3 separate regions of the Homo sapiens genome follow, and all the other regions are linked to region 1. The links come from fine-mapping of genetic effects on gene expression. A gene starts in region 1. Each other region holds a variant in brackets. All regions are shown on one strand. Distances are from middle to middle. Region 1 holds the start of HADHB (hydroxyacyl-CoA dehydrogenase trifunctional multienzyme complex subunit beta). Region 2 overlaps HADHB (hydroxyacyl-CoA dehydrogenase trifunctional multienzyme complex subunit beta). Region 3 overlaps OTOF (otoferlin).

Evidence for each region. PIP is the estimated chance that this variant, and not a neighbour inherited with it, causes the effect.
Region 2: its variant is fine-mapped to the expression of HADHB in blood mononuclear cells (TOPMed, PIP 0.96).
Region 3: its variant is fine-mapped to the expression of HADHB in monocytes after R848 (Quach 2016, PIP 0.95).

What each region holds. Positions count from the first base shown.
Region 1 is chr2:26,241,275-26,249,456 of GRCh38, reverse strand. HADHB (hydroxyacyl-CoA dehydrogenase trifunctional multienzyme complex subunit beta) reads right to left here and starts at 4,518. Exons shown (of 16, transcript NM_000183.3): 1 at 4,467-4,518. It overlaps HADHA (hydroxyacyl-CoA dehydrogenase trifunctional multienzyme complex subunit alpha), which reads left to right and starts at 4,825. Exons shown (of 20, transcript NM_000182.5): 1 at 4,825-4,927. The coding sequence starts at 4,861. RefSeq lists enhancers at 2,763-3,490, 4,349-4,448, 4,303-4,983, 6,469-7,009.
Region 2 is chr2:26,276,483-26,284,664 of GRCh38, reverse strand. HADHB (hydroxyacyl-CoA dehydrogenase trifunctional multienzyme complex subunit beta) reads right to left here. Exons shown (of 16, transcript NM_000183.3): 7 at 7,505-7,592; 8 at 5,864-6,051; 9 at 5,350-5,530; 10 at 4,550-4,671; 11 at 1,741-1,820; 12 at 1,614-1,661; 13 at 461-548. Among named protein-coding and RNA genes, the nearest start is that of HADHB, 36 kb to the right of the region's middle. The variant T/C (reference allele first, on the strand shown) is at 4,095.
Region 3 is chr2:26,489,006-26,497,187 of GRCh38, reverse strand. OTOF (otoferlin) reads left to right here. Exons shown (of 47, transcript NM_194248.3): 9 at 2,115-2,246; 10 at 7,448-7,510; 11 at 7,893-7,977. Among named protein-coding and RNA genes, the nearest start is that of OTOF, 66 kb to the left of the region's middle. RefSeq lists an enhancer at 3,393-3,542 and a silencer at 7,140-7,382. The variant T/A (reference allele first, on the strand shown) is at 3,459.

The DNA of each region.
Region 1 (8,182 bases):
TCACTGCAACCTCTGCCTCCTGGGTTCAAGCAATTCTCCTGCCTCAGCCTCCCGAGTAACTGGGACTACAGGCGCACACCACCATACCAGGCTAATTTTTTTTATTTTAGTAGAGACAGGATTTCACCGTGTTGATCAGGCTGGTCTCGAACTCCTGAGCCTCCCAAAGTGCTAGGATTACAGGCGTGAGCCACCACGCCCGGACTAATAAATCCCCTTTAAGAAGCCAATTTGATTTGAATTTTCTGTTATTTGCAACTGAAAGACTCCTTCCTGATACATGACCAAAAGCAAGAATGAGAAAACAAGCCATTCACAGAAGAAATTAAAATGCCAAATAAACAAAATGTATAATGTTCAACCTCACTAACAAAAAGTTGTGATTTTCTTTTTTTTTTTGAGACAAAGTCTCACTCTTGTCCCCCAGGTTGGAGTGCAATGGCGCGATCTCGGCTCACTGCAACCTCCACCTCCTGGGTTCAAGCGATTCTCCTGCCTCAGCCTCCCGAGTAGCTGAGACTCCAGGCACGTGCCACCACGCCTGTCTAATTTTTGTATTTTTAGCAGAGATGGGGTTTCACCATGTTGGCCAGGCTGGTCTTGAACTCCTGACCTCAGGTGATCCGCCCGCCTCTGCCTCCCAAAGTGCTGGGATTACAGGCATGAGCCACTGCGCCCAGCCTTTTTGTTGTTGTTGTTGTTGTTTTTTAAATCAAAGCAAGGTATCATTTTGTGGTTTTCAGATTGGCAAACATTGAAAATATGGTTAATATATAATTCTAGTAAGAATGCATCTAACTAAATAGGCACTTCCATACACTAGAAGACATGTAAAATGCTAAGGCCTTTTGGGATGACAATTTTGTAGTTATAGATCAGAATTTAAAATGTGAATTTTTGAGTCCAATAATGCCTTTTATTGGTCTCTAACCTATAGAAATATTCAAAATGTATGTATAGCATATATAGGTCTCTAGCGTAAAATACTCAAGGTGGGCCAGGGGTGGTGGCTTACGCCACTGAACTCCAGCCTAGGAGACAGAACGAGACTCCGTCTCAAAAAAAAAAAAAGAAATACTCAAGGTGTTCACTATAGCACTGTTTATATTTGTGGAAAACCGTAACTAATCTAAATGCACATCAGTAGGAAACAGTTAAGTAAGTTATAGTATAAACACACCATGGAATACTGTTTGGCAGTTTGGAAAAGAAAATGAAACAAAATGATGTACATGTATATATACTGACATGGAAAAATGTCCATAATATATATTAAATGAAAAAGCAAGCTACAGAACAATGTGTATTAGAAATTAGAATAATAGATTAGAATAACTGGAAAATAGGGAAATGGGTAAGTAAACCCTACTACAACAACCATTTTGTGACAGAAAGAGAGAAAGAGAAAAGAAAGTCCCTGAAGCTATGAGTCTAGACATGGAAGGATAAAGAAAGGCTTTTATTTAATATTCTTCTGTTCTCTTTAATTTTTTTAAAATAAGCATTTTACTTATGCATAATTCTAGTTTTATTTAAAATCTATATATACTGTTGTTCCTCAGTATCCAAGGGGGATTGGTTCCAGAACCCCCCTCAGATACCAAACCTCAAGGATGCTCAAGTCCTTTACATAAAATGGCATAGTATTTATTTGCAAAGAACCTACACACATCCTCATGCATACTCTAAATCATCTCTAGACTACTTACAATACCGAATGCAATGTAAATCTATGTAAATAGTCGTTATGCTGTATCGTTTAGGGAATAATGATGAGAAAAAAAGTCTGTACATGTTCAGGACAAATGAAACCACTGTAGGCCTAACTACATTTTCACTCAGACATTGGTTGAATCTGAGGATGTAGAACTCACAGATACCAAGGGCCGACTGTACATCAATATCTTATATAAATATATACAAATATACAAATGCATTTTAAAAAGTCCAGAAAAATACACATCAAAATGTTAAAAGTAGTTATCTCCGGGTGGTGGAATTACAGATTTTCTTTAGACTTTTCTGTAGTTTCTGAATAAAAAATTACATGGAATATGTATTCCTTCAATAGTTAATAAAAAATAGAGATTTCAAAAGTAAGAGGGACTAAGCAAATTATCCTATAGCAGAGCTGACCTTTCTGTCATTTGCTAAACTTCAGAAAACAGAAATTTTGGTAAAAATATTCAAAGCATGGAAACTCCAGGGTAGGGTAGGGTAGGATCGAGTTGGTTAGGGTAAGCCTGAGTAAGGTGTGAACTATGGAAAGATACACGAAGCTGCAGGCACCTGGGAGCAAGGGAAAGGAAGAAGAGTCTAGGCAAGTAATGAAAACAAAAGCAAGATGGGGTGGCTCTAACAGCTCATTATTACAACTTTGAAACACAACGTAATGGTTAAGAGAACTAAAGCCAGACTATGTCCAAATCCTGATTCACCCTAGCTGTATGACTTTAAGCCAGTTACTTAACCACATAGGACGCGCACGCGCACACACACACACGCACGCACACCCACGTGCACACACCACTTAAAACAGTGCTTGATACACAGTTAGGGGTATACCTGTGTTTGCTATTACCAGTAGAGATGGTGATACAAATGTACTGTTTCCCTCTATATAAACCATTGGACTAAAGTGCTTAGGGATCAAAGAAACATTATAACATTTCTGCCCTGATGGAGCTTAGTTTTGTAGAGAAAGCACAGGGAGCAAAAAAATGGAGCCAAATGAGTGATCTAAATCAGGGATTGGCAAACTACAACACACGGGCCTCTAGCTAAAAATAGTTTTTCACATTTTTAAAGAGTTGTAAGGTCGGGCGTGGTGGCTCACACTTGTAATCCCAGCACTTTGGGGGGCAGAGGTGGGCGAATCACCTAAGGTCAGGAGTTCGGGACCAGGCTGGCTAACATGGTGAAACCCCGTCTCTACTAAAAATACAAAAAATTAGCCCGGCGTGGTGGTGTGCGCTTGTAATCCCAGCTACTCGGGAGCCTGAGGCAGGAGAATCACTTGAACCCGGGAGGAGGCTGCAGTGAGCCAAGATCGCGCCACTGCACTCCAGCCTGGACAACAAGAGCAAAACTGTCTCAAAAAAAAAAAAAAGTTGTAAACAAAACAAAACAAAAGAAACAATATATAACAGAGACCAAAGTGATCCTGCAAATCCTGAACTATTTACTGTCTGGACCTTTAACAACAACAACAAAATTTACCACTTCTGACCTAAATAATAAGTGTTACACGCAGTTAGGTGTTGAAGAAAGCATTACATGGGCAGGAGGCAGGCTCTGAACTGTAAAAACCTTGTAAGATTATCAAGAATCCTTTTTGCAATTTATTCAGAAGTGGTCAGGTCATCCAGTTTCTGCTTAAAGTGCTCACATGATGAGCACTCACTATGCAACTTGAGCTTTAAACAGAAACCTCTCTACTCTGTCTCTATACTCATTTCAGTCTTAACTTCGATGCCCCTTGTTTCCTGTCCTGCAGAGCTGTCAGTCTGGCGAGTAGTGAGACTCAGACTTATGTCTGAATGCTAGGTCTGTCACAGACTAGAAAATGTATATATTCTGAGCTTCCCAAACTTCATCTAGAAAATGCAAATGATAATAATTTGGGGAATGTGAGGACTAAACAAAAAGGTATGAAGGTGACCAGAGCACAGCAGGCTCTCAATGTGACTTCCTTTTGAAATCAATCACTTTATTCCAGGACTCCAGCCCATCATTCCAGCACAAAAACAGCTACCATGCAATGAAGAACTCTTCACTAGGAGTTAGTAGACTTAGGCTCCAGTCTTATTTCTACTACATATGGCCATGGGTAAAATCACTCTCTCTGATTCGTAGGCAGTTTCTTCACCGCTTAAGTGAGCTGAGGTGTGAACGACCAGATAGATAATCATCCAGATCGGAAAACCCCCGAGAGCGCAGGATTATCTGGATAACGGAGCCGGATGGAGGATTGTCTCCGTTCCTCCCACACTCAAGCCCCGAAAGGTCACCTGACCTAGTCTTATTCTTTACAGCAGAAATCGGGCAAACCCATGGCGCCGTCCACAATCTCTATAGCCGCCGACCTGGGTACAGGGGAAGCAGGCGAAACAACACACACTTCTACGCAGACCAGGGTTACATTAAGGCCGACGCCCACACACGCCCACACACACCCACACACACACACACACCCCCACACCCCCAGACTTCGTTAACTTGTGATGATAAATTAGGGCGCAGGTGACACTACTGTCCCGAACTTCAGCTGGAACGCTAGTCCAAGTCACTGTCCTAACTGCAGCTAGCACTGCCGACCTTGTCCGAGGAGTTTCCTTCCGCTCCCTCAACTCCCACTTTCCCAGGGAGGGGAGGGGGCCGGGGGCACCGGCGACAGTTGCGGGGAAGGAAGTGGAATCTCGCCTTTGGGAAAGCCCGGGCGGAGAGCTGAGGGCTCGCCGTCTCACCTTGGCTGACGTCCGCGAGGACTCCCTCTCGGAGCAAGGTTCAGGTCCAAGTACCAAGGCTCTGCGGGACCAAGGGGCGGGTCCTGCCCAGAAAGGGCCCCTCACCCCGCGGGCGGTCAGGGCCGTTCTTGAGGGCTGCCCTCCGGCCGCCTGACTGGAAAACCAGGCACTCCACCCCCTCCTCTCCGGGCCCCCGTCCTCCCCCGGAGAATACGACCTTTCGGCCATGTTAGCCAGGAGCGAGGGGCAGGGCTAAGGGGCCGGCGGCCACTCGGCATCTGGGTTTTAGTCAGGCAGTGCTCCAGGCGCCTGGCTGCCAGGCTACGGGAGAAAAGTCCTCCGCTCGGCCGCACCCGTTAGAGGCGCTCTCCACTGCTGTCCTCTTCAGCTCAAGATGGTGGCCTGCCGGGCGATTGGCATCCTCAGCCGCTTTTCTGCCTTCAGGATCCTCCGCTCCCGAGGTGAGGCCTGGCCGAGGGCATCCCAGACCTCCGGGCAGAACTCCTGCCGGGACTGGGGTGGCCCCGGAGCCGCGTCTCCCTTTCGCTGCCGCCTGCCCCAGCCCGGAGACGCAGCCCTCTGTGGGGATACTGCCCTGGGACCCGGTTTCCCGTGACCTTCTGAAGAGACTGTCACTTCCCCTCTCACGACTCCTGCGGCGATTTCAGGCTTCCTAACTCCCCAACTTTCTGAGTCTGGTGCCACTCGTTCTGTCACCTTTCCGCGGGTCTCTTGCGTCGCACTTCTGGGCTCACGCCCCTCATATTTTCTTGATCCGGAGTTCCAGGAGAATCGGGATCCATTCTGTCGCATCTTTGTGGCTCCACAGCACCTTGCCCCGCAACAAGAGCTGTCTTAAAAACAGCACCTTACCCCGCAACAAGCGCTGTCTTGTATGGGATTAATCAGCCTTGCAGATCACTGCCCCTCCCTGCTCCGTTCCCTCAAAACCATTTTTGTGCTTACTACCCCAATCAAGTAGGGAGCTCAACTCTTGCAGTTTCAGTAATGTCAGTGTGAACGTATAGTATTTTGAATTTCAGCGGGAAGTTCTGCAACTTACTGGAAGACACACTTTAAAAATACGCTAATACCTCTACCTTAAGCAATAAAATGTTAGATCGTTCTGAGAACGATTTGTAATCTGATGATTCCCAGTCAGCCTGTATTAGCTAGTGTTTTTCCTTTTCAAACTGGCAGTGAAAGGGTTAAAGTGGGTGGTTGTAGGAAACGTTGCATTTTCTTTCCATCCCAAATCTGTAAAGTCAAAAGTGGACAACGTTTTATTGCATGTTGTGCTTAATAAGTTACTTAACTAGAAATTTTAACTTTTAATTTAATTTGTAATATGAATTACCTCTCTTCCCTCTTCCGGAACCGCTGAAGTAGTATGCTTTTTTTAGACAAGTAGCTGAAATCCCTTACTGTAAGGGGATTTTTTTAATGATTGAATATTTTTCTGCTCCCTTTTTTCAACAGCTGTTTTTAGTCTCCACAAAACTGTAGCATGTATTTGCCAATTATAACATAAGCACATTATAGAACATTGAAATGCTGTAAGGATTGAGGAAAGAGATGAAAAAAAAACGAATCACCCATTGTCTTACTACTCATATGCTTACCTACGGTTAGCCTTCGGTTATGTTTCCTTACAGGTTTGGTGGTTTTTTTCCCCTATTTTCACAACACTTTTGAAAAGTAACGTGTAATTTTTATCTTACCCCTGCATTGGTTTGAAGGTATTTCTTATGGATCGGCAGCTGATGTCACTCGGAAGTGGTAGCCAGGGCACGTGGTTCTAGTCACTAGCTGTGTTACTTTGGACAAATGCCTTAAACTAAATGGGCTTTATTTTCCTCATCTGCAAAATGAATGATTGAGATGATGGATTTCCTTTGCATGAGAAGTAGCATGACAGAGCAATTAATAAACATTGTTTGGGCCGGGTGCGGTGGCTCACGCCTGTAATCCCAGCACTTTGGGAGGCCCAGGCGGGCGGATCACGAGGTCGGGAGATCGAGACCATCCTGGCTAACACGGTGAAACCCCGTCTCTACTAAAAATACAAGAAATTAGCCGGACGTGTTGGTGGGCGCCTGTAGTCCCAGCTACTCGGGAGGCTGAGGCAGGAGAATGGCGTGAGCCCGGGAGGCGGAGCTTGCAGTGAGCCGAGATCGCGCCACAGCACTCCAGCCTGGTCCTCCGTCTCAAAAACAAACAAACAAACAAAAAAAACATTGTTTGGAGTCTGACTTCTGGGTTTGGACCTGGCTCTGCCTTTTACCCTCTGATGACCTTGGGCAATTAATTTCTGTGTTTGTTTTCTCATTTGTAAAATGGGGAATAATACCACCTTGTGTGATGAAAAGGAGTTATTTTAGATATCAAGCAGTTTTTCATGGAGTAAGCACTCAGTAAATATTATTAACTCCAGCCTGGAAGAAATACGATTGTATATATCTGAGAGTTTTTAAAAGTAATTTGTACATCTTATGTGTGTAATAAAAAGCTACCAACCTAATTTTTCTGTTTTCTGTATAGAAATATATAGACACATAAATATATACTTTGCATTGTGTTTTCACCAGTAAGAAAGTATCATTCGTTGTAGTTACTGATCCCTTAATAGCAATTTATAAATTTTGAAAAAAAGTCTGGAAAGTGAATTTAAAATGACCTGCACCCTTATATTACTATTTAGACTCAATAGATCCTTCACAGTAAAAGTCTGTGCAAGGCTTTGCCAAACATTTAATGAGATTATGACCTTTGCTGGTGGATGATAAAATTCTCTTGAAAGGGGCCAGGCACGGTGGCTCATGCCTATAATCCCAGTATATTGGGAGGCCAAGGCGGGCAGATCACTTGAGGTCTAGCCTGGCCCACATGGTGAAACCCCATCTCTACCAAAAAATACCAGAATTGGCCAGGTGTGGTGGCACACGTCTGTAATCCCAACTACTCGGGAGGCTGAGGTGGGAGAATCGCTTGAACCCAGGAGGTGGAGGTTGCAGTGAGCCAAGATCACACCTGGAGGACAGAATGAGACCATATCTCAAAAAAAAAAAAATTATCTTGAAGGAGACTTGTAATTCTTGAAATTTTAAAGCATTCCTTCTCTACAAGTGCTATAATTCTGAATGTGAATATCAAATGAAAATCACTTCTTGACCAGAGTATGTTGTCTAATTCCCACTCCTATCCTAAATCTAAATTCCTAATTAGGTATTTAGTAGTAAATAGGTATTAGTAGTAAAATAATTTCACAGGAGATGAATTTAGAGGCAAATACCTTAATAGATGGTTTTTTTGTTTGTTTGTTTTTTCGGTTTTTTTTTTGGAGACGGAGTCTCACTGTGTCACCCAGCCTGGAGTGCAATGGTGCGCTCTTGGCTCACTGCAACCTCCGCCTCCCGGGTTCAAGTGATTCTCCTGTCTCAGCCTCCAGAGTAGCTGGGATTACAGGCTCCTGCCACCACGCCCAGCTAACTTTTTTTTTGTTTTTTTTTTTTTGTTGTTGTTGTTGTATTTTTAGTAGAGACGGGGTTTCGCCATGTCAGCCAGGCTGGTCTCTAACTCCCGACCTCAGGTGATCCAGCCACCTCAGCCTCCCAAAGTGCTGGGATTACAGGCGTGAGCCACCGCGCCCGGCCATAGATTGTGTATTTTTAAATTTGATTCTCACTTCCTTAATCTCGTCGCTTCTCCCAGTGTTG
Region 2 (8,182 bases), 35 kb before region 1:
TGAAACCCTGTCTCTATTAAAAATATAAAAAAAATTAGTCGGGCATGGTGGCAGGCGCCTGCTTGTCCCAGCTACTCGGGAGGCTGAGACAAGAAAATTGCTTGAACCTGGAAGGCGGAGGTTGCAGTGAGCCGAGATCGTGCCACTACACTCCAGCTGGGGCAACAGAGCAAGACTCTGTCTCCAAAAAAAAAAAAAAAAGTAAAGTTGAACAAATCTTTGTATCAGTTTTCAATGGCAATTTCCTAAAGAAGCAATTTGGTATGTTCTCCAACACTGTATGTGTGGCCCTTGCTTCCCTCCCCTCGGGCCCCTCCCAGCAGTGTGAATCAGTACTTAAAATATGCAGGTCCACTCCTGCTCTACTCACATCATAAACCATGCCTTGCTCTCTCCCACAAATATGGATGACATTTTTTATGACTATAGTCCCTTCATATGTGTCTTTCAAATTACTTACCGAGAAAGCTTCATGAAATTCAAAAGCATCAATATCATTCATGGTCAATCCTGCCTTTTCTAGAACTTTTGGAGTAGCATATGTTGGTCTGCAAAGAAAAAATAAGTAATATCTTAAAACTTTAATTTTTAAACTAAGAGCTCCTTCATATTCCCCAAACTGAGTTTTACATAGGTACTCTAATGTCTTTTCACTCATTCTTTGATTTTTCTGTACTGATTAATGAAATGTTAAAGATAAAATAGTGAAACTGTACAGACATGCCCTCTACTCTTATGTTGCAGAGTCAGAGAAATTGATAATAAATAAACAGTGAGGGATAAGGACAAGCTAATAACATGAAGAACTGGAAGAACAGAGTTCAAAGAGCAAGGCAAGGGAAAGGGCTTGACTGATGTGAACGTCACAGTGGAGGCTAGAGGCTACAGCCTTGTGAGGGAACGGAACAGAGTCTAAACATGGGGAGGCTTTTATAAAAGGCTATATTAGGAAGATTGTGTAGCAGGGTGTGTAGCCATATGAAAAAATGCATATGCTATCTTAATGAAAAAGAATATAAGTTGTGTGTGTCCATATATATATGTAAAACTTATAGGAAAAAAATGGAAAATAATCCAAAACTGTAACATGATATACCAATGGAAAGGATTACTACTATTTTATTTATTTATTTATTTTTTTGAGATGGAGTCTCGCTCTGTCGCCCAGGCTGGAGTGCAGTGGCGTGATCTTGGCTCACTGCAAGCTCTGCCTCTCGGGTTCATGCCATTCTCTTGCCAAAACCTCCCGAGTAGCTGGGACTACAGGCGCCCGCCACCACGCCTGGCTAATTTTTTGTATTTTTAGTAGAGATAGGGCTTCACCGTGTTAGCCAGGATGGTCTCAATCTCCTGACCTCGTGGTCTGCCCACCTCGGCCTCCCAAAGTGCTGGGATTACAGGCGTGAGCCACCGTGCCCGGCCAGATTACTATTATTTTTTTTAAAAAAACCACCACATAAACCAATTATGAACTCAGGGCTTAATATACTCTCAAACCAGTGTAATAAACAAATAAATAATAAACCAGTGTTAATCATTTATTAACCAGTATAATAAAACATAGGCAATCAAATACTTGTGATTATAGTCCAAGGATACAAACTGCTACCTACCCAAGTAATAGTTGATCTTTTGGATCCTGAGACACATACATAAAATCCCTAGGTAAAAAAATAGAGAGGTGAGCTTTGGTAATAAAATAAAGAAATCAGAGATGATTTGTTTGAACATTTACTTTACCTCAAATATGCCTTCGGCTTATAACCCATGGCCAGAGCCTTTTCCTCCGCCATGATTAACATTGCAGATGCACCATCAGTCTGAAATGTTAACCAGCACAATGTTAAAATTCTTCAGCCTGTCTGGAGGTCTTTCTCCAGCCATCTTATATATCTGTACCTGAATCTATTAACTCATTAGACTTATACAGTGATTCTATATAACAACACTTACTTCACTGTATCCATCATTAAATCATAATTCAAACATACACACGCTGACTCATTTTTGGAGGATGAGGGTAGAGAAGGCTGTTCAAAAGTATCATAATAATCAAAATGAATCAACAGAAGAGGTAACTTTAGAAATAAATGCTCATGGCCAAGCGTGGTGGCTCATGCCTGTATGCCTGTAATCCCAGCACTTTGGGAGGCTGAGGCGGGCAGATCATGAGGCAGGTGATTGAGACCATCCTGGCTAACGCGGTGAAACCCCATCTCTACTAAAAATAGAAAAACTTAGCCAGGTGTGGTGGCACACACCTGTAGTCCCAGCTACTTGGGAGGCTGAGGCTGAGGCAGGAGAATTGCTTGAACCTGGGAGGCGGAGGTTGCAGTGAGCTGAGATCGTGCCACTGCATTCCAGCCTGGGTGACAAAGCCAGACTCTGTCTCAAAAAAAAAAAAAAAAAAAAAGAAAGAACTGCTCATAATAAACACTAAACACTTATTTAAGCCAAAGTTTTTAGCTTGTGGCACAAAATATGAACCAAAATAAACATATCTCTTATTTATTTATTTTTACATTTTCTGGGCTCTCAGCTGCTTTCTGCCCGTGGCTTACAGGTCATTTTATTCTACTTATATATTCTGTAACGAGCAAACCAATGGGAGAACCAGCTGAGGACATTAGAACCACAATCTTCCCTCTTTGGATACACCCCATACATTTCTTCCCAAATGACAACCGAGAAGCTGGAGGACAAAGAAGTACTACTGAAAAAACGTCCTTTACCATACTTCAAAGAAGAAAAGCTCCCCCAAAAACTTCAGAATTCCAAAGAAAAGGAAACTATTCTTCATAATTTGTAAAATCAAAATAAGTTCTACCACATTCTGTCGTATTTTTATAACTCGGCAACCCTGAAGAGACTGTGTAGCCACCAATAGGGTGTCCATAAAGTCTGGAGACATAGGTGACCATATGGAATAAATGGTTTACAGACATTACATTAATAACAGGTTCAATGTGCCATTGTGCAAAATTGCAATGAATGTGGGGCACTAATGCAGTCCCCAAAATCCATGTATTGTGATGTGTCACCTCTGATGATTTGTGTCTCTGATTCTCACTAAATAAACCTGGACCTTTAGCATACCCTGGAAATAATCAAAAGGATTCAGATCTGGCAAGTGTAGTCCATGCCACATGGCTCTATCATCCAATTCGGTTTTGCAAATGACCAACCTAACCAGCTCTTCACCACCTGGGCTTAACAGGGTGGTGTTCCATCCTGTTGGAACTACTCCAGATTCCACTCCCCTAGCCTATCAAGAGCAGGCATTAATTAGTCATTTACCATGGGCAAATATGTCAAACATCTGCGTATGTTTTCAAGACTTTATGGCCAGGTAGGAGAGTTACATTGTAAGAGAAACTCTGACCAGATGGCCTATATCCAGAAGACTATACCCAAGGTGGTAAGAGAAGAGAAATCACATCTTACAAGCAGCAGCAGAATCAATAAAGATGTTTAATTGAGGAGTCAGAAAAGCATGGAAGGATATGAAGCTACATGTTGATAAGTTAAAAAAAAAACACAAAACAAACAGTGGTAGATTTGTTCCATGATGCTTACAGGAAAATAATATTGGGGTCAGTGTAAAGCAGTTTTCTAACAATCAGGGCTGGAAGAGGTATCCTGTTACTCTTTCTGCCTGCTTTTCCTTGTCTTCTGCGACTTCCCAGTTCATACCTTATGCTCCAACCTAACTTTTCCCCAAAGAACCCCTTGCTCTCATACTTCCTTGATTTTGCATTTGCTATTCCCTTTGTCCAAAATGCCTTTTTTTTTTTTTTTTTTTTTTTTTTTTGAGATGGGAGTTTCGCTCTTGTGCAGGCTGGAGTGCAATGGTGCGATCTTGGCTCACCGCAACCTCCACGCCTCCAGGGTTCAAGCAATTCTCTTGCCTCAGCCTCCCGAGTAGCCGGGATTAACAGGCATGTGCCACCACATCTGGCTAATTTTGTATTTTTAGTAGAGACGGGGTTTCTCCATGTTGCTCAGGCTGGTCTCGAACTCCTGACCTCAGGTGATCTGCCTGCCTCAACCTCCCAAAGTGCTGGGATTACAGGCGTGAGCCACCGCACCCGGCC[T/C]GAAATGCCTTTTAAAATCCTTCCTGAGTTGGCTTTTACTCTTCCTTCAAGATTTGCTGCTCAAGTGTTACCTCTTCCAAGAAGACTCTCTGACTGTCCCCCCATCTGGGTCAGGGGTTCGACCTAAGCCTTACAGCCATCACAGCATCTCACTATATTGCAATTGTCTATTCTTTTCATTTCCAGGGCCCACCATAAGCAATAGAAGTTTTTGACTGGTTAAGTGCCTGAAAGGAAGAGCTTTTGTGGCAGAATGGTGGCTGGATTAGGTGACTTCTCGGGCCTTAAAACCGTGATTCTATTTTTTTTTTAATGACTCCACTTTCACATTAAAATGAATAACTATATTTTTAACCCTCTATTCATAACACACACAAAAAGTTATATTAGGCTTTTCTACAGAGAGTACAGAAATAGAAAAGTCACTACTAAATACAAATAACATTGACAGTTACCAAGAAAGAAGAATTTGCAGCTGTCACTGTGCCGTAGGGCTTGATGAATGCAGGTTTTAGTTTGGCCATCTGCTCCAGTGAGGAAGGACGGATGCCATTATCTTTGGTAACTGTATCTTTTCCTATTAAAAAAATGAATTTTTTTAACTCTATGGAACCACAAGCCTTATATATCTTCTCCACAGAAATATGCTTTAAAAATTACAAAAACAAATGAAATATAAACCTTACCTATTCACTAGAAGGAAAGTGTTTTATAATTATCATATTATCAAATTTTAAACTAAAGTCTTAAAAGACAATTGGGAAATCATCTAAATGCTTTACTAAAAATAGGACACCCTATTTTCTTAAGACATTCATTCACAGTTGGCTATTCTATACAGAAGTCAGACGATTCAGGAATTTTAAAAACAGGCATGTATGTAAGAACTAAAATATATCAGCAAGATCTAAAAGGAGACTCTGTTTTTCTTTTTTTTTTTTTTAATTAGAGATGAAGTCTCACGCTGTTGACCAGGCTGGTCTTGAACTCCTGGCCTCAAGCGATCCTCCTGCCTCAGCCTCCCAAAGTGCTGAGATTAGTGCTCAGATCTTAAAAGGACACTCTTATAGAAACATTAAAAAATGTTAACCTATTGTTACAACATAAATCAAAATTTGCATCCATATTTAAGAATAAAGGCTGAATACTTTGGAAACAGAACCAACATACTTATGGAAAAATCACTCGGGATGTTTTTGAGTTTTAGGAGCAATTCAGAACTCCCTAATAAGTGTCATGAAGCATTTCATTTCACCTGGTACTTTGAAGGGTACCACATCAGAAAGGAGTCCTTCATCCTGTGCCTTCTTGGCTAGACTGTGAGAGCGCAGTGCATATTCATCCTGTTCCAGCCGAGAAACAGCAAAGGCAGCGGCCAGTCGGTCTGCAGAGTGGCCCATGGTCTCACTGGTGGAGAACTCAGAAACCGCAGGGAGCTGGGAAAGGAGATATCCAAGGAGCAGGTACACTGTTAACCGGTGTTATGCTAACACCTAGGATTGTTCTGTGTTATTTGGAAAAGTTAAAATCTATTTGTCTACCATTAATCAATCAAGTCCAAGACAAGCAGAGGATCTCTAAAGAGGATCTCTAAAGAGGGCTCACAAATTAAAGTTTTCTAACCACTATCTTTTTTTTCCATCTTGAGCAAGTAATTAACCCTTTCCTGTAACTACAGAATCTACACCTATTACAGCATAGCAGAGTCCACACTGCCATACCTAATTCTAAATCTCTGCAGTGGGATGCCCTGCAAACACAAGCCTTACCTCAGGTGCTAGGAAATTAAATCGGAATTTAGAGATTAAAGACAGTCGCTGGCCCATAGATTTGGCCTTATTGAGATCAAGCATCAGTTTTCTCATTTTCCTTGAGTGACGAATAGGGACATCGGACATCAACTCAACACCACCTGCCACGATCACATCACACTGGCCAGAAGCAATCAAGCCAACACCTACAGGGCACAGGTTATACTTCATGAATATCTTTTACAGAAAATAACATACCATTCCAATTTAAGCTTCTTGATTAAAAAGCTGAATGACAGTTATCAGCTTTGTACAACATCTGTAATTAAAGTTTTCAACTTTTCAGAAGAATTAAGGTAATTTTCTTAAATGACTAAAAACACATTCAACACGTTAGAGAAAAACAAGTTTCATTCCTGCCATATGGACGTCAACTTCTAGGAATATCCATTGGACCAACTCTTGAACAAATCATATTCCAAACCAGAACATCTTGCATATTTATATGCTCCCAGCTTTAGTTTTAATAAAGATTTTTTATCCTATAAAGAGAATGTTAACTTCTGCTGCAAAGCAGAGAAATTACAGCTGTTGAAACGTAAGGCAGGCCCCCTCTCTCCTTATGGCCACTGGCCAGTATTCTGTTTCTCTAACCAGGAGTTGGTCACATGCTGCCTAGAGTGGCGAACGCCCCCAGTCACGGGCATCATTCCCCGCCACACATGAGGTGGGGTGCCCACCTGGGCCTTGATGTTACTAGATGAGCACATGATTACTAAATCTTTCAGGCTTCCTTGCCTCCTCACACTAAGAGCTGATGCTACAAAATATCCCACAGTTTTGCTAAAGTTTGTTAGTGGGGTTTTCAGTGATTTATAAAAATGACAAGGATGTAAGGAGAAAGTGAAGGAAAGAGCTGTGCCATCTAAAGCAATGATTTACAAGTATGGTAGTGGTGAAGGAAGGAAGACCATATCTTTGTGGGAAAATATCATATCTGAAGCACCTAGGTTGAAAGCCTGGCAGGTTGTAAACTATTTACTCATGCCTCAGATGCTGAAGTACCTTCCTAGAGATACACTCCTCCAGTTGATAATCCCTGCTGCAGCCAGCCACATTATTCACAGAGGAACCACGCCAATGGTAATGTTCCTCAGGTATGGAGAGCAAAAAAAGAGGTTAACTACGGTTAGAACCCCCAAATTTTAAACCTGACCTTACTTTTTAAAAAACACAAGTATAGAGATCTGTGCTAATCTTTTACTTCTGTTAAGAGTACTTTTTGGGATGAGCATGGTGGCTCACGCCTGTAATCCCAGCACTTTGGAGGCTGAGGTAGAAGGATCACTTGAGGCCAGAGGTTTAAGACCAGCCTGGGCAACATGGCGAGATCCCGTCTCCACAAAAAATTTAAAAATTAGCTGGGTGTGGTGGAGCACCTGTAGACCCAGCTACTTGGGATCCTAAGGCAGGATGATCTCTTGAGCTCAAGAGTTTGAGCCTGCAGTGAGCTATGATGGTACCACTGCACTCCAGCCTGAGTGACAGAGTGAGGTTCTGTGTTAAAAAAAAAAAAAAAAAAAAAAGTACATTTTTATAATCAAGTAAAAGACAAAGGAGAATAATTAACATGTACTGTCTGTTTCCATTTAAACATACCTGTGGTCATGGCTTGGTTGGCAGAGATACAAGCCATGGTGACAGTGTGAGCAGGAGTCTTGTCAGAGAAGCCAGCTCCAAGGGCAGCCTTTAGGAAATAGAGTGAATGAAATGATCACTATAAGGGAAGGGCATCATGTAAATGATGCTTTGAGCACTAATCTTCATAGTCATCTGGAAACGGTTTCAGTTTAACATTCTCCAGAGCAATATTTAAAATCAAATGAAGTCCATCACAGAAATGGTTCACTAATATTTAATCTTGCCATTAATTGACAGGTATATGCAAAATTCCTGCTGGCTGGTTTCTAGTGCAGACACGAGGCTATGATACTCTCCTAACTCACCTAATTTCTTATCGATGTTTTGCTCAGGGCCTTCAAGAATATCAATATATAATTTGATTTTAACTTGTTTAATGTTCAAATATACTTAAAAGAACCTATTAAAGACAGTTGCTGGAATGATGATGAAATATATTATGGGGTGGAGTCCTCACTATCTGTGTTATCAGGTCTCATGATCAGTCACAAAGCTTAGCAGCAAAGCAAAAGTGATTAAACATGAAAATGATTTCTAAAGAACTGACCCTTCATAAACAGAGTTCCCACTCAAGACCCTGTCTGCTTTACACCTATCTTTCTGCTCACTGCCAGCTGGTTTCTCTTACTGACCGTC
Region 3 (8,182 bases), 250 kb before region 1:
GAGGTTGCAGTGAGCCTAGATCGTGCCACTGCACTCCAGCCGGGGCAACAGAGTGAGACTCTGTCTCAAAAAAAAAAAAAAAAAAAAAAAAAAAAAAAGAAGAATGTACAGAGGTCCATGCTTATTCTAGCTGGGGAAAGGCTTTTCTTGTTAAAACACACGTTTGAGAGAGGCAAGTGAATCAATCATTCTAAGTATCATGCACAAGCTCCCTACTTGAGAGATCAACCGCTTAGCTGAAGGGAGATTCTGTTGGGGTCACTCACATTTTGTAGAGCTTTCTGCTGTTTAGGATGCATTTTGACACACATGATCTCATTTAACCTGCATACAACCTTACAGGTAGCTGGTGTCTCTGCTTGTAACTGAAAAACACAAGGCTATGTGGTCATTTGCCCTCACACCTGGCAACATGTCAGGTCTGGGGTTCAATCCCAAGTTCAGCAACCCCCAGTACATGCCTCTGTCTATCTTAACATGGCCACCCTGACAGGAACTGACACCTCCAAATCCAAATGAGACCTGATGGCTTAAAATGAGGGTTCGGGAAAAGTAGTAGTGATGTCAAAAATTACTGGTGCTCTGGCTCTCTCTCTCTCTGTCTCTCTCTCTGTCCTTATATCTTTTTAGCTTAAAAAGCCAATAATTGGCTGGTCACAGTGGCTCGTGCCTGCATTCCCAGCACTTTGGGAGGCCAAGGCAGGCAGATCACCTGAGGTCAGGAGTTCAAGACCAGCCTGGCCAACATGGTAAAACCCAATCTCTACTAAAAAAAAAATACAAAAATTAGCCGGGCGGGGTGGCATATGCTTGTAATCCCAGCTACTTGGGAGGCTGGGGCAGAAGAATCGCTTGAACCCAGGAGGTGGAGGCTGCAGTGAGCTGAGATCATGCCACTGCACTCCAGGCCTGAGTGACAGAGAGAGACTCAGTGTGAAAAAAAAAAAAAAGCCATTAATCATTTGTGGTAAGCTCCACAAGGAAGAATTTGTTGCAATCCCACCTGTGCCTGGCTCCAGCAGGTTTCCAGGAAACATTTGTTGCATGAATGAACAACTGAAATAGGGCTTCCCAGGATATAAGTAAGATTGCAGAGCTGGACGCCACATAAAGGACACAGCAGAGTGCACACAACATACAATCAGTAGGCTGAAAAAGGCGGCTCAGGCAGGCACCAAAGCCGCACTGGCCATACAAACAAAGAAATTCAGCAAACAATGTGGAAAGGGGGGGGAGCCAAATTCCAGAAATGCAAAGACGTATCAGAGGCCTGCAGGCTTACATGAGAATTCCTGGAGCAGGAAATTAAATGCAAGTTAATGAAGACTTTGAAAGCTTTATTCCTGAGTGCATGAAACCTGTGACATGGGTTTGGCAGCTCTTTCTGAAGCAGAGCCATCGACGCTGGGGAAGAACGCAGGGCACTTGGCATCACCTAGGAGCTTTAAAAATACAGATTCCAGCCTGGGCACGGTGGCTCATGCCTGTAATTCCAGCACTTTGGGAGGCCGAGGCAGACAGATCACTTGAGGCCGGGAGTTTGAGAACAGCCTGGCCAACATGGCAAAACCCCATCTGTATAAAAAAGACAAAAATTAGCCCGGTGTGGTAGTGCATGCCTGTAATCCCAGCTACTCAGGAGGCTGAGGCAGAAGAATCACTTGAACCCAGGAGGCAGAGGGTTGCAGTGAGCCGAGATCATGCCACTGCACTCCAGCCTGGGCAACAGAGTAAGACTCCATCAAAAAAATAAAAATACAGATGCCTGAGCTGCATGTCCAGGATTGGATTGGATTGGTCTGGAGGTGGCCTGGGCATCAGTGTTTTTAATGCCTCTCCCTCCCTTCGGCCCAGCAAGTTAAGTCTAGTGAACACTGACTTAGAGGTTAGCCAACTCATACTCCTCTATAAATGAAGACACTTGAGGCATAGAAGGAGAAAGAGCCAGGATCACCCAGCAGATGAGAGGCAGTGGTCAGAATGGAGCCCAGGAGGCCAGTGCTGGCTCCCGGGCCCTCCCTCTGACCCTGCTGCCCCAGCCCCTGGACCCCTGCGGGACCAGGCTCCTAGGCTCAGGCAGCTTTCCTTCTGGCTCCCCCTTCTCCTGCCTGCAGGTCAGCATCACGGTGATCGAGGCCCGGCAGCTGGTGGGCTTGAACATGGACCCTGTGGTGTGCGTGGAGGTGGGTGACGACAAGAAGTACACATCCATGAAGGAGTCCACTAACTGCCCCTATTACAACGAGGTCAGTGGCCCTGTGGGGAAAGGAGCCTCTGTAAATATGGCAGGAGGGTGGCCCCAGCCCTCCCCAGGAGAAATAGGAGTGGCTGGAAGTCAAGGAGCACACAGGGCTACCAGCAGGGGTGATCCACCCTGTTACAACCCCCAGGACACTGACAAACAGAGCCACATCTTCTGAATCCTCTGAACCCCCCAGTCTAGAGCACAGGCCGACACTGGTCTTTGAAGCGTACACCACCCGGGTGCTCCTGGGCAGACCCCAGCAGTGCCTGTGAAAGAACCCCCCCCCACCCCACTCCCCAAGAGGCCTGGTTCCCACTGTTTCCCAGGCCAGAGCCCAAGGACAGGGCTGCCTCATTCCAACCCATGGTGGCACTGGCACCATTAGTAAGCACTTTCTACCAGCCAGGCATGCTCCTAAATGCTTCTGAACTGGACCATCCAAAGTTGTCACTATCAATTCCCTTTTACACAAGGGGACAGTGAGACTTCTGAAGGCAGACCTTGTCCAACCTCACAGTGCCAGCATCGCCCTTGGCGTGCTAGTGGGGTTCTGCCCTCTTGGCTCGGCTCCTTCATGGTTGCCTAAACTTCTGCGGGCTTCTCTCCAGAGCACTGGCCTTGATTTTAGGGTGTGAAAGAGAAAACATTTGGTACCCACTCCTATTCTTTCCAGCCATTTGAGGCCACATCAAGGGTGAGGGACCTCAGAGACCTTCTACTTTAATCTCCCCATCTTACAGAGGAGGATACTGAGGCCTCCATATGGAAGGGCCTTGCCCACAATCTCAGAGAGTGTTGCTGATAGAGCAGGGGCCAGGCTGCCCACCCAGCTTCCAGCCCAGGGCTCTGGCCACCATCACAAATATGGCACCTTGGTTCCCAGGCTCCAGATGGGACCCCATCATAATCAGCTCTGGGGAGGGATGTGAGAAATAGAGAAATACACTCACTCATCAAAACCCAAAGAATGACTTAGAGGCATGAAGAACAGCGAAAGTGAGACTTTTAATAACGGTCTTGCAAGATGGAGTGTCTGGTAGGCAGGCACCCCTGGGGCAGTCACAACAGGAATTTATCTCCTAGTGTGCAAGTCCCTCCCCCACTTCCCCATTGGTTGAGCACTATGGGGTTACAATCTTCCCTGACGTCGCCTAAGTTTCATTTTCCCCCTTACAAGGTTATACCCCGCTCCCCTTCGATTTCCCCACTTAAG[T/A]TTCGATTTCCCAATAACAAAACTTTCTTCCCTTTCATGGGCTGACCCCTCCTCTACATTCTGTTCGCTTATTGTGTCCTTCTAGGTGCATGAGCCGTGTGGTTTGTTGCATTCGCAGGTTGGATGCCAGTACTTAGACTTATCCTGCCTTGAAAATGGACCATTGAAAATGTTTTCTCACCAGGATGCCCAGGCCTTTCCCAGATGCCTGATCACACATCAGACTAACCCAGAAGCCACAGGCCTGGGCCCTGCCATCCCTTTCCTGGAGGGTTCCCCAGTCTGTTTCTCCTGGTGGCTCCAGGCAGTGAGGGGTGCCAGGCTGTCCCAAGTAAGGCAGCTGAGTCCCGTACCCTGAGGTGGGTGAGGGCTGAGGTGCCCCCTGTAGCTTGGGGGAGGGCATTTCTCAGGCAGCTCTGAGAGTCCTCAGACTGTGCACCTGCAGGAAGAAAACCCAGGCCCACCTCTGCCCTTCAGCCCAGGCCTGGCCGAACTCTCCTTTGTGACCACAAATTGACTCTGCTCTCCCAGCTGCTTTCCCACAGGCCCCCCGAGCTGGACAACCTGCTCAGGACCCCTCCAGCCCCAAGGACATTCAGGATTGACATCTCTGGCCTTACGTTAGGACACATCCTGACTGGACAAGTCTCCGCCTAGATAAGCATCTATGTCCCCAAGACAGGCATGGAGACAGGTCCCTGTGGCCCCGGTGGTTACTTGATAGCAGTGAAGCCACTTCTGCTAACTTAAGGGATCTCCCTCCACCAGGCCCACACACCTTGGCTTTCATTCAAATTACTTCCTCTTTCCCAAGGGCACAGAGCTGCTCTCCCTACTCTGTGGCTCCCCCAGAAAACTCCTACTCACCCGGCAGGGCCCAGCTCAAATGTTCTTGCTACTGAGCAGCCTTGCCTGCTCTGTCTGGGTCAGAGGTCAGCACTCCCCTTTCTCTGCAGTGTTAATGTCCTGGAGTTGAGGTTGGTCCTCCGTGTCTCTGTCCTGCTGGTGGACTGGAGGCTCCCAGTCTCCTGCCTCGCTATTTGTTCAGAGCCAGGCATGTACTCGGAGGGGTTCAGTAACACTCACCCAAAGGAAGACACAAACATCCACTGAGCATCTGCCGCACACCAGACAGTGGCACGTGGGGCAACATGGAGGCTGCCGAGATGAAGGAGGCACAGTTTCCGCCCTGCGCAGGTCCCCTCCTTGTTTCAGCCTAGAATCTTTCTAAATTCCCTATTTACTTCCTCTAAGACTGACTATTCATTCTGCTCATCTTTGGACAATCTTAAATGTGTTTCTGATCACATTTTTGTTCTTTTTCACAAACCCAAATAGCTCTGATTTTGTTTCTGTTTCCTCTAAACTAGGGTTTCTCAAACTCAGCACTATGGTATCTTGGACTGGATAATTGTGGTGGGATCGTCCTGTGCTGTGTAGGATGTGAGCAGCATCCCTGGCCTCTACCCAGTAGATGCCAATAGCAACTCCCCTTAGTTACAGCTACCAAGTTTCCAGACATGCCAAATGTCCCCTGAAATCGCCCTCAGTTGAGACCACCATTCTAAACTATCTTACTATGATTCCTTCCAGCCCCAAATCAGCCTTTCCAGCCCCAAAGCTTTGTTTCCCTTTTCTTCTCTTTCTATGCCACATTCCTTTTCAATGAAGGACATCCTCCTCGTCGTGGGAATGTATTATTTCTGACTAATTATCTGAGCTGGTAGGAACCTTCCTTTGGCTCCATTAAAACAACAGAGGGAGGTGGGAACAATCAACATGACTTAGGTATCTAAGCTATTACAAAAGGAAAATATGCTCAGGAAATAACAGGAATTTGATTGCAGACAGCTCAGAGAGTTCGGGATTCTGGCTCTAGCTCAGCTAGCTCGCTCCCCTGGGGCTGGCACATCTGCGGGCACCTGGCCTGATCACCCTGCCTGGCCCTGAGCCTGCCTGTGTGCAGGGAAGCTCAAAACCTTTGCCCTTCCGGAACAAGCTGGCCATTCACAAACCAGACTAAGGCTCCTTTCCTGTGTGTCCTGTGTGTGCATCTGGCCCCGCCCTGGGCATCTTGGGAGCGCCACCATCCTTCCTCCTGCTGAAAATCCACCTCTCCCCTTTGCCTTGGATCCTTCTCTTTCTACAGCTCAAAGAACCTGGCATTGCACAGCCCAACTCTGTCTTTGTTTTTCTTCCAGCCCCTTCTTCCTTGCCTATAAGGTGTTCTACTCCAGCATATGCTAAGTACAACCATGAAGACCCATGTGTGCTCAAGGACAGGAACTAGGAGTCTGTCACCTCTCTCTGGGCCTTTCCTCATTCCCACACACTTCTCCAGTGACCTCCTTTTTCCCTCCACCCCTCCACAGTCAGACCACTTGGGTTGTCCTCACTTCCTCCCCCCAGTCACCCCTCAATCTCTGCAGGGTTTCTGCCTCCAGATGTCATTGACACTGCTCTCCTCAAGGTCACCAAGGACATTGCTGTTCCTGAGTATAATGTCCATGTCATCCTCCTCTCCCTTGATCACCCAGTTTCTTTCATCCCGCTGCCTGCTGCTCCTCTTGGGGGCCCCTCACGCCACTCTCCTGCTTCCCCTGTCTCTCCAGCTCCATCTCCCCGGCCTAACTTCTTGGCTGAAAGGCTGTGTCTTCTTGGAGCCCTGACCTGGGCCTGCTTCCCCTCCCATGCTCTCCCCAGGTATCTCCTCCATCTCCAAGGTGTCAGTTACCATCTTGTGCTGACGATTCCCAAATCCATATCCCCACCCGCCTCCCCAGAGCTTCAGAACTCTGGCCAGCACACCCTGGGCCTGTTAGTGTCATGCACAGCTGTCGCTGCTTGCTATGTGCTTACCGTGGTGCACACCTGTGTTAAAGACTTGACCAGGGTGTCTCATTGCAACTTCACAACCACACCTTGAAGCCCCCCAAGTGAATGGCACCCCTGGAGCAGTTCAGCACGACAGCCCTGGATCATATCTCCACATTCATAGGATAATAGGTAAACTGAGGCTCAGGCAAGAAAGTGAGTGATCTAGCAGTAACAGCCAGGTGGGGCTGGCTCTGAAGCTGGCTTTACCCTCAGTGCTCAAGGGCCAGCCCCCAGCAGCCAGGAGCACGTTCTCTTCGGACATTTACCCCAAGCACATTGGAAATATTTCTCCCTTCTCCCCCACCACAGTTCACCAAAGCAGCAGCCCCTCTACTCACTGCCCCACACCCTCATCCTCAGCACCTGCACACCCAGGCCAGGGGAAGAGATGGGGACTGCAAATGTGCATGGCAGCCCACAGCACCAAAGGACAGTGCACACCCATGGCATTTCACATCGACTGCCAACTAAGTGCTTGGCACACCATGGTTCATCTGCTCTGAGGCTTGCGTTATTTTACAGTTTCACCTCTCTGAATTTGGGATGTGTCTCCTAGGCAGCCTTGTGGCTTCATGGCAATGTCCATGTGGCTTATTAAACCGTAGTATATCTTACAGCCAGTAGCCACTTTAGATTTGGTAAAATATGTTACACTGTCTCATCAGAGCCTCATAACAAGACTCTGAGGTGGGTGTCATTATCCCCATTTCACAGCTCAAAAAACTGAGGTTCAGAGAATGTGTTGCTCAAGGCCACACAGTTAAGAAGGTGCAGAGCGGGGACTAGAACCCAGGTCTGCTTGCTCCCTGGCCCTGTGCCTCTTCTGAGCACAGTACAAGGGCATGGGCTGTCCCACCTACTGTTCCAAGTTCCTTTCCCACCCCACACTAGCCAGCACCAGCCCCACCTAGGGGATGGGGCTCTGCTTCCTACCACCCACCACCAGGGTCAATCAGGATCAGATGAGTTGCCTCTGCTGCTCCTCTGAACTTTGGGGCTCAGGGCAAATGTCTGGGGTGCAGACAGGCCCTGCGAGGAGGGAGGGGCCCAACACTGCCTGGGCTGTTGCTGCTGCCCTCAGTGACAGCAGGCCTGGATCCTTCCCCCTCCAGTACTTCGTCTTCGACTTCCATGTCTCTCCGGATGTCATGTTTGACAAGATCATCAAGATTTCGGTGAGTGGGGAGCAGCCCCTGGCCGGCAGGGCCACTCCCTCAAACTGCACCTTTGTGCAGACTTGAGAGGGGCCCCCTCTGTCTAGACCCATGATAAAGAGGCAGCGCCGTGCCTGGACACACGGCTGGGCAAGTAGGGACAGGCTGGATTCTGGCCCCCACCCACCCCTTTCATTGGATGCCTCTGAATAGTGCATTCGCCCGTAAACAGTGGCCAGCAAGAAACTGGCGTGGGCAGGAGGAGCTGATGCTGAGCCTCAGTGAGCCACCCCACTCTGCCAACGCCCTCCCACTTCACCACAAAGCTCGGGTCCCACCACTGCCCCATGGAAAGCCTCACCCTTGCTGGGCCTGACGGGTGGGCTGTGGTTCTGCCTGAAAGGTGATTCACTCCAAGAACCTGCTGCGCAGTGGCACCCTGGTGGGCTCCTTCAAAATGGACGTGGGAACCGTGTACTCGCAGCCAGGTGAGTACCTGCGCATGGCCAGTCAGTCGAGGTGTGCATGGCTCAGGGAGCGTGGTGCACGGGGCCCTTCCCACTGTGGCAGTTCCTGGGAAAAGGCTGGCAAGGACCACAGTCTGGCGACTGTTAGTACACACAGCCATCTGGCCTGCGGAGAAGTGGCGCGCACAGTCTGTACACAAATGCAGTGAGCAACTGCGCACCCAGT